Linked DNA regions of Homo sapiens. The protein of the gene in region 2 purifies or fractionates together with the protein of the main gene of each other region. This does not show direct contact. Each region holds a gene or a part of one and is shown on either strand. Other genes may lie near its edges.

Region 1 (4,705 bases), on a different chromosome or scaffold from region 2:
GTCCTCATTCACTATCTGCACTGGGGAGGGGCAATATGACAGCACAACTGTTCATCTCACTCGCTCCACATCCTTAGAAATAACACGATTTTTAGATTGGCTTCATGAAAATTAGCTCAGAGACTAAAGTAGCACTACAGAGGAATAAAAAAAATTTGTTATATAAATAAGAATCTTATTAAAATACTAAGTAAGATACTATGCCACGGTATATATTCATAATTTAAAACCCACCTACTTGGGAAAACTTTGAGGTGCCATCTAATAAAAATGCAGCATGAAAGAATATTATGCCCTTGATAGTCACATAGTGTCTATAATTATGACAATGAATGTTCAGTGAGAAATCAAACGCCAACTGCAAGGGCAAAATATAATAAAAAATAGCTTAAAGTAGCTAGTGCCTTCAGGATAAAATCTGGAAAAGAGCTTTCTTGCTGATCTTTTTTTGAAACTTTGCTGCTCCTGAAGTTTTTACCCTTTAAGGCTCCTCAGTTTATATGAAGCTTGGAGGACAAATAACAGACAGGTTTGAGCCTAACAGATTTGTTTGAATCCCAAATTTACCAATGACTGCTTGTGTGACCTACTAAACTAAGCTCCAGGAGGGCCAGGCCAGGTGTCTTATTCAACCACATAATCCCAGACACCTCCTCCCCAGCGCCCCCCAGCATGTGAGGCAAATTTCCTCCATCAGCATAGGAATCGGATGACCTGGGAAAGGGAGTATTGTTAGTTTTCCTAGAGCCAGCTTCAATAGGGATTGGGGTTATTTAAAAATACAGGAGAAAAATAAGGAGGCGCTCAAAAACAAAACACAAAACCCACATTGATGGGGGTATGTCAAAGGGGGGAACAGGAGATAACGGAAAGAGTTCCCAATGGTCAAAGCTGGGATAATTTGAGCAACAAAATAAAGTAGTATTAAATTGTAACCCAAAGTATAAAATATTCATGTGTCCACACTGATAAACATAAATGATCGAACTAATAAAGCGAAAGGGACAACTGTCCCTCGCAGAAGAATTTCAATTAATTATGTAGACCACTCCCAAGAAAGTACACTACAACTCCCCATTCCTTTAGTGTGGGCTGTGCATAGTGATTTCCTTCCAAAGAGCACAGTATGAAATGGGGGAAAAGAGTAACTTTACAATGGAGAAACCTGACAAACACTCCTTCAGCCAGGTGATCAGGTCGTCAACATCAACATCAATAACAGTCATAACCTTTTATTTCATGTCATAAAATGGTGACACTTACTTGTGTTAAAAAAATTTAATAACAATGTAATCATTATATCTCTGCAATCAGCTGAAGTTCTAAGAAAAAATGACAATGTTGAAAGTTGTATCATCATTATTATAAACTTTCATGTTCAGTATATGTAAACTCCAAAGCCAATTTCAAAAGATATTTTTGTGAAATACCATTCTTTAAAAAAAAGGATATTATATATAATTGTATGAATGTTAAATGTTTTACAGTACTGATTTGCTACATTTTATGTATGCTGTAAAACAAATACCATTTTAAAGTATATTGGAATTCGTAACTAAAGTAATAAATAAATGCTTGAAATATACCCAGTAGAAACTTATTTTTATTATCCAATCCTTTTGATAAGAAATGCCTCTAGTGTTATGTACAAACTTGATCTTCTTTGAAATGTGTTGTCCACTGCTTTTCTGTTTCTGTCACAGTAGCTATAAACAGCTGTTTAAGGATATCCTTATCTAAATTTCTGCCTGCAAACAAAACAAAATATGACGTGATTACATTATGCTTATTAAAATGACACAGTTCACCTATCAATTCCAGTTCATTAAATGCTTTATGGTGTTTAAAAATTTACAAAAAGAATAGTAATTGAGTGATTCCATCTTTAACTTTCCAGGTCAGTACATCAAAGTCACATTGGTCCTTGGATTAACCACTTTTCTAAAATTGAAGAAGAACAAAAGTCCTAACAAGCTTTTACGAACGTTGTAATGTGACAAAGATGAAACATTGACCACAAGCTTATTTAGTTTTAAAAGAGGACCTGAATGGTTAATCTGTTTAAGTGGCACATGATATCCCTTTCAAATATATTTTTCACTTTGTTTCAAAACTGTGAATCCTTTGAGACTTACCAATGAGGACCAATCGATTTGTTCTCTCAGTGTCATCCTTCCAGCTCACTGGAGTCTCCTCCAGATCATAGAGCTCATGGACACCCTGGACAATCACTTGTTGTGATTTGTCTTTGATTGACACCAATCCCTGCTCAAAGGAGAATTGACTGAACATTAATCAGCCTCAGTTCAAACTTAAAAGCAGAAATAGAGCATCAATGTTAATGGATTAATTACTGATATTCACTTAAAAAATACAAACTCTTAAGCTGAGAAAATTACTTAATTCCAATTATTTGTGAATTACAAGAAGTTTCTTAATGTTTTTAATTTTCAAAAAAGGTTTCTGTGTATTGATTTTTTTTTGAACAATCCCCTTTTCTAATGATAAAGTTAATACATATATTAGGATGGTTTTTCAGTGTTATTTATCACAACCAAAACCTGAAACAAAATGATGAAATATGTATCATATCCTATTGATTAAAGATTTTATATAATGTTTCACAGTTTTAGTGGGAAAAGTTGAGAAGTTAAAGGAGTTTTGTTATATTAAATAATTTGTTTTAGAAATGGGTTGCAATCAATGAACAATGTTGAAATAAAGAAAAACTATTATATTTATCTGGATATGAGCTCAATTTATCTGAATATGAGCTCATTGTGTATTGATTTGCAGAAATGAGAAACGAATTATCTGATAAACTGGCTCCTATGGGGATGAAATTAATTTATTTGAAATAATATTCTTAATTTACCAAAAACTTTGTGCACACTTGTGAACACACAAGAGTAGACACTCAACTGACTGGTTAAGCATACACTTTAGAATCACTGCTTCCTAGAAGAAATACCTTTCATGACTTAAATACCCAAATATCAAGTAATGTGAGTGGGTTTCTAAATACAGAACAAGAATTCTTCTAGTCCTTTGTAACTTTGTTTAGAGTACAACAAATGTTTAGTGTCTGCTAAATGCATCAGGAAGCATAATGTTCAGCAGAAGTGAGATTTGCAACATTATTTCTCTGTACTTGGGAACAGAGAGCAGAAGGTAACATTTCAAAGCACACAGGTTTGTTCTAGCTGCAACCCTAAAGAAAGTTGTGCAAATAAATCAAGCCTTATGCAGTGATTTCCAAAGCTCCTTTTCAGTCATGAAAATAATAAAGAAAAATGAAAGTAGACAAAGATGATTTGTACTAAAACCAGTGTTTCTGTTTAAAACCAAATATAGTTTTTATAACAGCCAAGAAAAGGACTTTGTCCAAAAGTCTGCAACAGTAAACTGTACCTTCAGCCTTATGACCTCCATGCAGTGATTGTCCTTGTTTCTCACATTCTTTTCCCACAGAAGATTCTGTATCAAGTGACATATTTTAATAAGACCAACCATCGCTAATAGCAACAACTATGTAACAAAACCATTGATAAATCATTAATCAGTTAAAAATTGCATTCACCTGAATAAACATATTAAGATGTTCTTCCTTTGCATTTCCTGGTACTTCAAATGTGATTGTAACAATACTCTGTAAATCAAGGGAAATAATAATAATTCTTTATAGTAATATCAATGTTTTTTAAATCACAAATTTTAAGATGAAAGGAACATATTCATGGAATTTTACATTGCTTAAACCATATATATTACGTATTATACTTTCCTCAGCATATGTGCTGTTTTTTTGGAATTAGCAACTCCATTTCCTACATTCTGCACAGGTACCAATGGATTTAGTATTTACACAAACTACTACCTTGTATTTTAAAAAACTCACTCAGAAACCCTGATGAAAGGGTCCTCATTATTTAATTCATTCTTTCGTGGATTCTCAGGAATAAGAATATATGTAACACATACAATGTACTCACTACACAGGGCCAGGTACTTTTGCCTGAGTCACCTCATTGTATCTTTTGACTTACTCTTCACAACAATCCTGGGGAGTGAAGATAACTATTTCATTTTATAAATTGGGGAAAATAAGGGTCAAAAAAATAAGCTACCCAGAGCCAGGAATAAAACTCAAAACCAAAGTAAATTTGTTCTCTTAAAAAAAAAATACAAAAGAAAGGCTTGGCTTATCTTTAACTGAATAAGCATGTGCCAAGAGGAGAAGAGTTCTTAGCGATGAGAATGATAGGATAATGCCCTCTTTGGCTTTAGTAAGGGTGACATCATCATGTATTGAATATTAACTTTAGGATTTATTTTTCTTCTTTATCTTGATAAATCTCTCACTGTCTACCCTAAAGAAACAGAAGCTTAACATTTCCTCTAACAGGTCACCTAATTAAAACCCAAACCTCCCTTTGCCAATATAACCCCAAATTTCAAACTCAGAGATGAAAATACACAAGGGCTAAGCATAACATTATAAAAACATACACCCCACCTTGGAAAATAGAGGCTCAAAAGCCAAGCTCAAAATGAATTTAAAAAGGTAGAAAATAATATACTAAAGCACATCTTTGCATAACTTCCTAGAACTGCGTATCTGGCCTAGCAATTTTACTCACCATTACATAATCATACAGGCTTACAGCAGAAAATACAAAAAGACCAAAAACTATTTTATAATCCA
Region 2 (4,928 bases):
AGCTTCTTTTTTTTTTTTTTTTTTGGAGACAGAGTTTCACTCTGTTGCCCAGGCTGGAGTGCAGTGGCGCAATCTCGGCTCACTGCAACTTCCACCTCCCAGGTTCAAGCAATTCTCCTGCCTCAGCCTCCCAAGTAGCTGGGATTACAGGCGCCTGCCACCACACCTGGCTAATTTTTATATTTTTAGTAGAGATGAGGTTTCGCCATATCGGCCAGGTTGGTCTCAAACTCCCGACCTCAGGTGATCTGCCCGCCTCAGCCTGCCAAAGTGCTGGGATTACAGGCGTGAGCCACCACGACTTGCCTTGTATGTAAGCTTCTTAAACTCAGTAGGAGCCCAAACAACACAAGCACTTACTGCTGTTATGAGGCAATTTACTGAGCTGGTGTCCCCTGGAGGTGTCTGTCCACTGCTCATCTTATCTATTCTCTGGACACCTAACTGAATTGCTGAGTGGCCCCATCTGGGCCTCAGCTCCACCAGGGTAAGGTGGGCACCCCTCAGGCTCTAGCTAGAACAAACTGCATGTGTGGAAATCAGTATCAGGCTTCTGGGAAACACTGGCCTACCCGGACCCAGTGACCAATTCCAGGAAACAAGGAAACACTAAGAAAAGCCCACCTGGTCAGGTGCGGTGGCTCACGCCTGTAATCCTAGCAGTTTGGGAGGCTGAGGCAGGTGGATCACCTGAGGTCAGGAGTTCGAGACCAGCCTGGCCAACATGGCGAAACCCTGTCTCTACTAAAAATACAAAAATTAGCTGGGCATGGTGGCACACGCCTGTAATCCCAGCTACTCAGGAGGGTGAGGCAGGAGAATCGCTTGAACCTGGGAAGCAGAGGATGCACTGAACCGAGATCGCGCCACTGCACTCCAGCCTGGGCGACAGAGCAAGACTCTTGTCTCAAAAAATAAAAAATAAAAAAATAGGCCAGGCGTGGTGTACTTTGCGAGGCCAAGGCAGTTGGATCACCTGAGGTCAAGAGTTTGAGACCAACCTGGCCAACATGGGAAAACCCTGTCTCTACTAAAAATACAAAAATTAGCCGGGTATGGTGGCGCACGCCTGTAATCCCAGCTACTAGGGAGGGTGAGGCAGGAGAATTGCTTGAACCTGGGAGGCAGAGGTTGTAGTGAGCCGGGCTTGTGCTACTACATGCCAGCCTGGGCAACAGAGCAAGATTCCGTCTCAAAAAACAAACAAACAGAAAAAGAAAAGCTCAGCTTTCAGGCCAGCCTTCCTCATCATTCAGATCCCCTGCCCCGGCCCCGTGTACCAGGAAACCTGAGCACCACCCACCCCACCCACCCCACCCACCCCTACTGTGGGCTCTGCCATAGAGCAGCCTCTCTGAGGCCTGGCCCAGGAGCGCTGCCTGCGAGGTCCCTACTGTGCTTCCCTCTCAGGAGGGCTCACCTGGAGAGGGGCTCTCCGCCCGGGGAAGGCCTCCTTCTGCCACTTCCCTGTCTTTGGGTGAGTCCTTGCTGTCTGGGCCCCTGAGCTGGGTGTGGGAGAAGAGCTGCAAGACGAAGCCGGCGGGGAAGCTGCCGTCAGTGAAGTGTCGGACCTCGGCTGGTGCTGCGAAAGTCTCCGTGGGCGAGTCTGGCGATGGGGGCTCTGGAAGGGAGGACGGGATGGAACTGTGAGTGAAAAAGCCTCAGGAGCTGCAGGCGCCCTGCGCCCAGGCCCTGCTCCATCCTCACTGATGCGGATTTCCTCAGAGCACTGCGGCCAGAGCCCACGCCTCCCCCGGGCCTCCCCTTCACCTGGGTCAGGGTCCAGGTTTTTGGTCATAGGTCTGCCTCTTTTCTTTCTGACTGGCTCTTCCCCTGGGGGTTCCTTCCATCTCTGACCACGGGGCTTCTTATTTCCTGGCTCTGTGGCAGGGACAGCTGCAAAAAGAAAAGACCTCATACCCTTTTAAAGAGGCCATCCCCGAACCCTGCCACCCCAGGGCTCCTGAAGATACCTGCCCAGAACACAGGGCCTGTATTTCACCCTGTCCCCAAACCCCCACCTCCACCGGGGCTCACTGGCTTCTCTGTTGACTAACCAGGAAGCTCGAGGGGGCGGAGTCCCCTGGGCCGGCTCCTTTTAGGGAGGGATGGGTTATCCTCAGAGTCAAGGAGAACGACGATTTCGGCTGGCATTCTGGCAGCGTCTGGGTTGGCGTCTGGGTCTGGGTGGGCATCCTGGCCCGAGTCTGCAGGGAGCAAGAGCACAATGAGCTTCTAGTGCCCCAACAAGTCCGACTTCTCCCTTCGCCAGCCCCAGGACCAACTACCTGAGTTGGGTGGGGACGGCTGCTCAGCTCTCACGTCTTGCAAGAGGGCCACCCCTTCACTCCAGGCCTCCAGGATATTGCTCTTCTCAGAAGGGCTCAGGTCCAAGGTGTGAGGGTGCTGCTCCAAGATGTGCGAGCGAGCTGTGTCGGCCGAGGGTGCCCGGATCTCAGCGCCACACACCATGCACAGTGCCCGCCCGCTGCCTCCTGGGCTGCTGCCCACCAGGAACTCCTGCTCCCAAGACACCTGCTGCTTCGGCTCCTCACAGCCATCACTGCCTGCCTCTAGCGGGCTGGGTCTAGGCGGTGGGGTCTTCTCCTGTTGGGTCACTGCGAGGGGAGAGGGGGAGGGTGTTATCACTAAAGGTGCCCACAACCAACAACACTTAGCACGTCTCCAGACTCAGTGGTTTGAGTGGGATGGGGGAGGAGAGCATTTCTGGCCAAAGTGTTCTTCTTCCTTCCCCTGGAGCCCATGAGGCACACGCCACACTCAACACAGCCGATGTGCCCGGGATCCCACGACTCTCGCGTCTATACTTCCTCTTGATCTAGTCTTGGACCTTAGGACTAACTACACATACTTTCCCAACAGGCTGCATTCTTGCAGGTCTCCAGCCTTTGCACATCTGTCCAGACCACCCTAATTGGGCTGGGCAACATCATCCCTGCGAAGCTTTCCAGAACCCCAATCCCTGACAATAGATTTCATCCAAATCTGACTTCTACACTTTCTTGAGGATGAGGAAGGTAAATTCTTTTAATTTTTAAATTTTATTTATTTATTTTGAGACAGAGTCTCACTTTGTCACCCAGGCTGGAATGCAATGGCGTAATCTCAGCTCATTGCAGCCTTGACCTCCTGGGTTCAAGCGATCCTCCTGCTTCAGCCTCCCAAGCACCTGGGACTACAGGTGAGCGCCACCATGCCTGGCTAATAATTTTTTTTTTAAAAGATGGGGGTCTCATTTTGTCACCCAGGCTGGAGTACAGTGGTGTTATCATAGCTTACTGCTGCCTTCAACTCCTGGACTCAAGGGACCCTCCAGCCTTAGCCACCTGAGTAGCTAGGGCTACAGATAGATGCATGCTATCACACCCAGCTAATTAACAAACAAAAAAATAATTTTTAAGAGATGGGGTCTTGCTATGTTGCCCAGGCTGGTTGTGAACTCCCGGGCTCAAGCAATCCTCCTGCTTCAGCCTCCCAAAGTGCTGGGATTATAGGCATGAGCCACCATGCCCGTTCTAAAGGCCACCCCATCCCCTCAGAACTCGCCTCCCTTCTCAGTGCTCACAGAGCATTTACAGCCATGGTCCCACTCCTATTGCTGCCTGATACCTGCTCTTTGTGTACACAGACAGACCATAAGCTTTCACAGGGCATCACCCTTTCCAGTTCAGCAAAGAAGGCAGCCTTAGACCTGCATCAGCCTGGAAGCTCAGTGCTTTTACGAAGTGCCCATGATCCTTCACGGCTGCATCTCCCTCCTACCTTCCAGAGAGGATGGGACAAAATTAAAACACAGGAGGCCCTAATACCTGGGGGCTGCATGGAAGAGGTGGTATGAGAAATAGGAGCCTCGGCTTGCATGGATACAAGAGGTGGTGTCTGAAAGAGATACGAGATATGTCTTGTACCTATCTCTCATGCGACCATGGGCAGAAATGACCTCTCAGTTGCAATCAGCTTTCTTCCCTACTAGTCTTCCAAAACAGCTCTCATCCAAGTCAGCAGTGCTAAACTCTGCGGTCAGTTTCTCAACTTCATCCTCTGCCGATCACCTCTTCCATCTTGATTTTCATCACTTGCGTCTAGGGCATGACCTTCTGTTGGTTCTTCTTTTGCTTCCCTGGCCCTCTTTCTCAGTTATGTGTGCTAGTTCTTCCTCATCTCTTCTCAATATTCCCTCCCTTCCTCTGGCTTGTTGCTGAAGACCATCTCCCCTCACTAGAGCACCCCATTCCCCTTATGCATCACCTCCAACACAGCACACATCACCACCTGGCACTTGTTTTTGGGATGTTCACTGCCTGTCTCCTTACCACACCATAGCATCCATGACCACGGCCAGGTGCGGTGGCTCACGCCTGAATCCTAGCACTTTGGGAGGCCGAGGTGGGCGGATCACCTGAGGTTGAGAGTTCAAGACCAACCCCACCAACATGGGGAAACCCTATCTCTATTAAAAATACAAAATTAGCTGGGCGTGGTGGCACATGCCTATAATCCCAGTTACTCGGGAGGTTGAGGCAGAAGAATCACTTGAACCCGGGAGGCGAAGGTTGCAGTGAGCCGAGATTGTGCCATTGCACTACAGCTTGGGCAAAAAGAGCAAAACTCCGTCTCAAAAAAAAAAAAAAAATCCATGACCATACAGATTTCTGATGTTTTGCATCTGTATCTCCAGCATCTGTATCTGTATCTCCTCGCATGCAGTGGCATTTAGTAATGTGTGATGAGGGACTGACTCGGTCTCCAACCTGCCATCACTGGAGTTTCCCAGGACTCAGTCCTTAGACACTTCTCTACTTCCTTCTCTTCCCACTGTCTGCCTGCTGGCAATTTCTGTTTACGCCACTAGCTAGATACTTCCAGGAAATCTAGGCCCATGTATCTGACTGCTTAGTTGACCTCTC

What was found. Proteins that work in one complex are often made in the same cells at the same time.
Region 1: the proteins of SPINDOC (region 2) and ZNG1C purify together in Homo sapiens (affinity purification with mass spectrometry; one large-scale study listed by BioGRID and IntAct). This does not show direct contact.

Annotation. Positions count from the first base shown.
Region 1 is NC_000009.12:68,296,524-68,301,228, reverse strand, and holds the end of ZNG1C (zinc-regulated GTPase metalloprotein activator 1C), read right to left. Parts: intron 3,650-4,705; coding exon 3,581-3,649; intron 3,478-3,580; coding exon 3,412-3,477; intron 2,266-3,411; coding exon 2,136-2,265; intron 1,749-2,135; coding exon 1,642-1,748; 3' UTR 1,194-1,641; downstream 1-1,193.
Region 2 is NC_000011.10:63,815,495-63,820,422, reverse strand, and holds part of SPINDOC (spindlin interactor and repressor of chromatin-binding protein), read right to left. Parts: intron 2,619-4,928; coding exon 2,289-2,618; intron 2,208-2,288; coding exon 2,058-2,207; intron 1,897-2,057; coding exon 1,771-1,896; intron 1,622-1,770; coding exon 1,421-1,621; intron 1-1,420. UniProt on the Homo sapiens protein: Chromatin protein that stabilizes SPIN1 and enhances its association with histone H3 trimethylated at both 'Lys-4' and 'Lys-9' (H3K4me3K9me3).